Homo sapiens: one gene and its partner. The protein of the gene in region 2 purifies or fractionates together with the protein of the main gene of each other region. This does not show direct contact. Each region holds a gene or a part of one and is shown on either strand. Other genes may lie near its edges. The genes, in order: FAM114A2 and NAA15.

What was found.
Region 1: the proteins of NAA15 (region 2) and FAM114A2 fractionate together in Homo sapiens (co-fractionation; one large-scale study listed by BioGRID). This does not show direct contact.

The regions. Positions count from the first base shown.
Region 1 is NC_000005.10:154,021,909-154,025,738, reverse strand, and holds part of FAM114A2 (protein FAM114A2), read left to right. Parts: intron 1-3,830.
Region 2 is NC_000004.12:139,384,813-139,388,642, reverse strand, and holds part of NAA15 (N-alpha-acetyltransferase 15, NatA auxiliary subunit), read right to left. Parts: intron 3,812-3,830; coding exon 3,665-3,811; intron 2,511-3,664; coding exon 2,413-2,510; intron 760-2,412; coding exon 559-759; 3' UTR 1-558. UniProt on the Homo sapiens protein: Auxillary subunit of N-terminal acetyltransferase complexes which display alpha (N-terminal) acetyltransferase (NAT) activity. The NAT activity may be important for vascular, hematopoietic and neuronal growth and development.

The DNA of each region.
Region 1 (3,830 bases), on a different chromosome or scaffold from region 2:
TTTCTAAGATATACACTAACTGACCTTTTTTTTTTAAAAAAGTGGAATCTAATGAATACAGTTTTGCCTTTTCTTCATGAAATAATCAGTTATAAACATTAAAAGTGAATGGAAAAATTCTCTCAGGTTTCATTAAGACATAGGGCCAATCACCCATGTAGTAGGTTAAATCAGTGATGAACAAAGTGTGGTCTGTAGACCCTTGAATTCCCAGAACCCTTTCAGGGAGTCTATGAGTCAGAACTCTGCATCATAATACTAAGATGTTGTCTACTTAGGAATTTTTTAAAAATTATAATGAGTTTTTTTTCTGCTTTGGCATTTGTGCTGTTGGTGAATAACAATGATGCATAAAATTGCTGGTGCCATAACATGGATCAAGATGTTAGCAGACTCTACTAGTGTCATTGCATTTTCATTGCCATGCATTGGCAGTTAAAAAAAAAAGTGCCAGTTTTATTTAATCTTGTCCTTGATGAAGCAGTAAAAATTATTAATTTTATTAAATCTTTACCTTTAAGTATGCATCTTACAAATATTCTGTGTGATGCCTACTGAAGTATGATGGTTGTCTCAGGAAAAGCACTTACATTATTTGAGTTGTGAGCTGAACTATGTGCTTTTTTCGTGGAATACCATTTTTACTTGAAAGGATAACAGTCACAGAGACTATTCAGAATAGGATAATTGGTACACATTTTCCTGAAAATGAATGAAGTGAACCTTTTCTTCAAGGAGAGCAACTAATTTATTTGTGAGTCATGATAAAAATTTAAGTGAAGGTTGAAACTTTGTAAAACATATTTGCTGCTGTGGTGAGCTTGACAGCTTCCCAGTGCTTATAGACTCTTCTTATGAAATTGGTGGTGATCATATTTGTTAAAATATCACTTTTTGATATTTTAACAAGGAAATGTGTCAGCATTTGGAAAGTCTGCATAACTCAGAGAACCAATATTTTCTAAATGTCAAATCACCATGGGTAAAAGACCTAATGGATTTTAATTTAGTGTACAAAATTTTATGATATGGTTTCAGGTATACTGCAATATGGTTCATTGCAACTAATTTTTAAGAAACGACCACTTGTTGAGTTTTAATGTGGTATTAAAGAATATTAATAATGATCTGAAAAGGCTATTAAAATACTTCTTCCCTTTCCAACTATGTATCTTTGTAAAGTTGGATTTTCTTCATATACTTAAAGCAACATAACAGACTGAATATAAAAGTAGATAAGAGAATTTAGCTGTCATCTGTTAAACTAGATATTAAAGAGATTCAACCCTGATGGCACTGTTCTCACTAAACTTTTTCTTTTTTGAAAAATATAGTTTTTTAAAATAAAAAGTAGGTTTATGTTAATAAGTGGTATGGGTTTACTGTTTTGAATGAATTAATAAACACTTTGTTTTAGCTTTATATAAATATTTATAACTTTTTATATGTATATGTATAAAACTTACACTAAAAAAGCTCTTTAATGTTCTCAGAAAGTTTTACAAGAACAAGGTCCTGAGACCAACAAGTTTGAGAATTACCAGATTAAATGACCTAAACTGCAATGCTTTTTAGAAATGTCTCTGATTGCTTTTTAGAATTGTACATCTTTATTTCTTTCTGTTCATTTATCTGTTCATCTTTTACTTCACTGTTAGCTGGCTTCTGATATCCCCTGAATCTTATTTGGTTTTCTATTTCTAATCTGTGGGTGAGAAACCAGGTAACTAATTTTATTTGAGATGTCTATTAAAAGCAAAGAGCTCTGAGTGAGGGTCTTAGAGTCTTTCTTGTGACAGGAAACATAAAGTTAACTGTGTGGATTCTCTACAAACAGGGACTTTTTTTTCTTTTTCTTTTTAAATCAGTTAAGGAGAAGAAATATACATGTATATCATTTATAATTACATAGTTATCTTTACCAGTGCTTTTTGTCTTCTGTTTTTTTCAATTTTTTTTATTTCCATAGGTTATCAGGGAACAGGTGGTGTTTGATTACATAAGTTCTTTACTGGTGATTTGTGAGAATTTGGTGCACCTATCACCTGAGCAGTATACACTGCACCCAATTTGTGCACCTGAGCAGTATACACCACACTCCCTTCCCATCCTTTCCCCCTGAGTCCCCGAAGCCCATTGTGTCATTCTTAAGCCTTTGCATCCTCATAGCTTAGCTCCTACTTGTGAATGAGAGCATATGATGTTTGGTTTTCCATTCCTGAGTTACTTTACTTAGAACAATAGCATCCAGTCTCATCCAGGTCGCTGCGAATGCATTAATTCATTCGTTTTTATGGCTGAGTAGTATTCCATCATGTATATATATACCACAGTTTCTTTATCTACTCGTTGATTGATGGGCATTTGAGTTGGTTCCACATTTTTGCACTTTTGAATTGTGCTGCTTAAACATGCGTGTGCAAGTATCTTTTTCTTTTTTAAATTATTTTATTAGTATACTTTAAGTTTTAGGGTACATGTGCACAACGTGCAGGCCTGTTACGTATGTATACATGTGCCGTGTTGGTTTGCTGCACCCATCAACTCATCATTTATGTTAGGCACTTCTCCCAATGCTATCCCTCCCCCATCCCCTGACCCCACGACAGGCCCAGGTGTGTGATGTTCCCCGCCCTGTGTCCAAGTGTTCTCATTGTTCAGTTCCCACCTATGGGTGAGAACAAGTGGTGTTTGGTTTTCTGTCCTTGTGATAGTTTGCTCAGAATGATGGTTTCCAGCTTCATCCATGTCGCTACAAAGGACATGAACTCATCCTTTTTTATGGCTGCATAGTATTGCATGGTGTATATGTGCCACATTTTCTTAATCCAGTCTATCATTGATGGACATTTGGGTTGGTTCCAAGTCTTTGCTATTGTGAATAGTGCTACAATAAACATATGTGTGCATGTGTCCTCATAGTAGCATGATTTATAATCCTTTGGGTATATATCCAGTAATGGGATCACTGGGTCAAATGGTATTTCTAGTTCTAGATCCTTGAGGAATCACCACACTGTCTTCCACAATGGTTGAACTAGTTTACACTCCCACCAACATTGTAAAAGCATTCCTATTTCTTCACATCCTCTCCAGCACCTGTTGTGTCCTGACTTTTTAATGATCGCCATTCTAACTGGTGTAAGATGGTATCTCATTGTGGTTTTGATTTGCATTTCTCTGATGACCAGTGATGATGAGCATTTTTTCACGTGTCTATTGGCTGCATACATGTCTTCTTTTGAGACATATCTGTTGATATCCTTTGCCCACTTTTTGATGGGGTTGTTTGATTTTTTCTTGTAAATTTGTTTAAGTTCTTTGTAAATTCTGGATATCAGCCCTTTGTCAGATGGGTAGATTGCAAACATCTTCTCCCATTCTGTAGGTTGCCTGTTCACGCTGATGGTAGTTTCTTTTGCTGTGCAGAAGCTCTTTAGTTTAATTAGATCCCATTTATCTGTTTTGGCTTTTGTTGCCATTGCTTTTGGTGTTTTAGTCATGAAGTCCTTGCCCATGCCTATGTCCTGAATGGTATCGCCTAGGTTTTCTTCTAGGGTTTTTATGGGTTTAGGTCTAAGTCTAATCCATCTTGAATTGATTTTTGTATAAGGTGTAAGGAAGGGATCCAGTTTCAGCTTTCTCCATATGGCTAGCCAGTTTTCCCAGCACCATTTATTAAATAGGGAATCCTTTCCCCATTGCTTGTTTTGGTCAGGTTTGTCAAAGATCAGATGGTTGTAGATGTGTGATGTTATTTCTGAGGCCTCTGTTCTGTTCCATTGGTCTATATTTCCCGTTTGGTACCAGTACCATGCTGTTTTGGTTAC
Region 2 (3,830 bases):
TGTCCCAGTTTCTACAACATCAAGCATCTGTTGTAGGTTTCTCTGTAAATAGTGATTCACATTGCATACTTCCTATGGTCAGAATCAACCCCGTAACAAAATCAGTCAGATGCTAAAGCCCCAACAACTCTTTGTGCTCAGTGAAAGAATCCAGTGCTAAAACAGCATTTATGCTGTCTGAGATATAGTAAAATCTCACAAGACAAATTTAAAGTAATATTTCTGCCACACACCTGCTTTGTTAGCTGTAACAGCCTCCAGATTTTATATAAATTAGTTTAAAAACATGGGTGGGTGGGGAGGAATAGGATAAGGTATCTTTTTTAACCACTCAATTTTAGCAGCTTTAATTTTTTAAGAAACTGAACCTCTATCCTGTAATGTTAGATATTTTATATATACTTTTTCAGCAGGATAAAAAACGTAAAACACTATTTGAAGGCAAGAACATTTACTCCTCTCATTCTGTGTAAGTTAGAGCAATGCAGCAGGTGCGTGACAAAAATATTATATACTAGATATGGTCCAAAGTCATTCCATTTGCTTGTTTAGTGATGTTCAAATTTCATTGGCCAGTTCTTCAGCTTCTGCAGAACTATCTCCATTAACTGTGATCTTCATATCCTCTTCATATCCAGGAGGCATGAAAGCCAAAGCATAAGGGAAAAGCTTATGACAATTTGCTCTATAAATTTCAGCAGCTTCTTTACAGTCTCCTAGGCTACCATCATACAAGGCTTCCAATACCTCCATACATGTCTAAGGAAAGAAAAAAAGTCATGTTGTAACTGGTCAAAAAAAGGTTCTTACTGGGAATTTATTAGACATTTCAACAGCAAGAGATTTCTAAAATAAGAAATAAATACACATATTTAGCTATTTACTCCTGCATATGCATTCTATTAGAATGTTCTTCAAGGCCTAATTTAACCATTTCTCCAGAATTGCAGGATTTATACAAAAGGCTAAACAGGGATGACTGCAGAAACAGGAATGGGACTATGGTGAGGCAAGCAAGGTATATGGAGTGCTACATTTAAAAAGCCACTCACTCTCAGCAAGCGTATGACCTTAGGCAGCAATGTTACCTCAGCCTAGCCTGGCCCTGGGTATAAACATCTAGATTTACAATGCCAATACCAATTACTGCACATATGCCTTCTAATATTTTTGAAAGCTTAGAGCCAGCCAGCAAACTCAAACACTGTATTCAACATTGTGTTCAAATTAAAGAGCAACTTAAGGCACATCCAATAACTAAGCAGAAAAGAGTGTCTCAAACATGAAGTGATTATTTGCAAGAAAAATTAGTTCATGAAAATGAGTAATTCTTTCAACCAAACCCCTAAGTAAGTCTGCTTCTTATCTTTTTTGTTGATTCATGTTGATTTGCATTTCTCATGTTTGCTTTCTTAATATTTTCACTTAGAAAAGCTACTTAGTTTCCACATGCAAAAATCCCTACAAACTTTGCCAGGTTACAAAGCAACTTAAATCCAGGTTACAAAGGACCTAGATTAGAACTTTAAATCCAGGTTCTAATCTAAATGGTAAAACAAACAAGTCTAATTTTTCTTTCTTAAAGATACTGCCTTCATTTGCTATTAAATGAATATATTTATTAATAACTGTCTTTCAGCATATACATGTTTATCTGGCAAATTATAACATGAGGTAGCTATCCCTTTGTTTCTAGTTTAAACTACAGTATTTTACAATACACCCATATTAATTTTTATTTAACTTAATCTCATATTGTATTACAAGTTACAAAATAAGTATTTTTATTTAGCCCCTAGTAAATACATCTTTCTTTATTTTGAGATAGGGTCTTGCCCTGTTGTCCATACTGGAGTACAGCGTCACAATCACAGCCCACTGCAGCTCCAACCTTTCAGGCTCAAGTGTTCCTCATATCTCAGTCCCCCAAGTAGCTGGGAATACAGTGCCACCACATCTGACTGATTTTTTTTTTTAAGAGATGGGGTCTCACTATGTTGCCCTGGCTTGTCTCGAACTCATGAGCTGCAGTGATCTGCCCACTTTGGCCTGCCAAAGTGCTGGGAATATAGGCCATGAACCAAAACGCCTAGCCAAAATACATTTTAAACATGTTAGAATCTCCACTGAGACCACTGCTTGCTCAGAAATGCAGAGATATGAAATGAAATCCAAAAATGACGATGGAATGTATATGATTTTATTAAAACATATTTCTTAAAAAGTTATTCCAAGCTACAGATGTGAAACTAGTTACTGAATGCCAAGCAGCCTAAATAAATTTTAAGATAAGTTGTTTCTGACCCAGATTCATAATGATTTAAAAAACAGTGTGTATAAATACCCAATTATTTCTCTTGGTGAAAAAAGTAGTTAAGTATTCTTACAGAGAGATTATGAAAAACTCTTTACCTGGAGGTTTCTGTTAGTGAGAGATTCATCAAGTGTTGTTGCCAACTCTATAGCTCGCTTCTGACTAGAAGGATCTAAGTAATATACCATTTTGGCAGCTAAATGAGAGGGAAATAGGAAATTTATTTCAAGGTAAAACCAACATCTTATCCTCTACTTATTTAAATATAAAAGGCAAACAAGATATATATGCAGAGGGTGTGGCACTTTATTAGAAGAATGGGAACAGCTACTTGAGATACTGTTATTCAAAAAATAATAATGCTAAGGGGATTAGCTTAACCATCCAAAGAAAGAGAACAATAGAGGTATACCACATATATCTACCCAATAAAATAGAATGTATATGCAACACATGCACAGTAAAGGAGACTATGAAGAAACACAAGCATTCTAATAATACTTGTATTTTTGTGGTAGGACCATGATAGTCTTCTTTCTGAAATAAGCAGAATAATGTGGAGGTTGGGGGACTATCCTATCTCAACAGTGTGAGCCAAAATGCTGAATTCAGGATTCCACAAAGGTATACAAAGCTGCTGGGCTTAAGCCAAGTATTTGAAAAGTACTACCCACATGGTCCCATAAAGGTCAGATTTTGGCTCATTGGCACAGACCCTTGACTTAGATTTCTCACAAACTGTGAAGATAATTTCAGGTGTTTAGCACTGTCAACTCTGATACCTACATAAGAATGAGAAATGGAAGACGATGGTCCTATCTGAGTGAATTTTAAGAGCCCAATGATGAAAAAAGAAATAAAAGAAAGCTCTACCTTCATTTTATGATATACATTTAAGTTTAGTTACACCTGCTTCTTTGTAATGCCAATGCTGAACCAGAAGAGACCACTGACTTTGATTTGTAGTGATTATTTTGCCGTAAGAAATTAAAAAATGTATAGGAAGCGCATATATATATAATATATATTATATATATATATATATTATATATATATATGTTTGGTTTTGTTTTGATTTGAAACAGGGTATCATTATGTTGCCCAGACTGGCCTCAAATTCCTGGGCTCAAGTGATCCTTCTGCCTCAGCATCCTGAGTAGCTGGGACTACCGGTATGTGCCACTGTGCCCAGCTTAGGAAGCTTATTTAAGCTGCCTGTTTTCATACGATCACAATGTAACATATACACACTGCCTCTTCCATTCTAAAAACATGTACCTTATATTATTGTTGATTCATTAAAATTACTGAAGTTGTTTTAGAAGGCTAAGGATAAAATAAAGTGATTACCTGATAATCTGTGTGGCAATGAATCAGAATTCCTTTTCAGAAAAGTTTCATTAAAATTCTTTGGATTCGTTGCTCCAAAAAGACGATTCATTTCTTGTTTTAATACTGTTCTAACTGTATCAGATAAATCTTTACTTTCACACACTGCTGAATAAATTAAAAATAA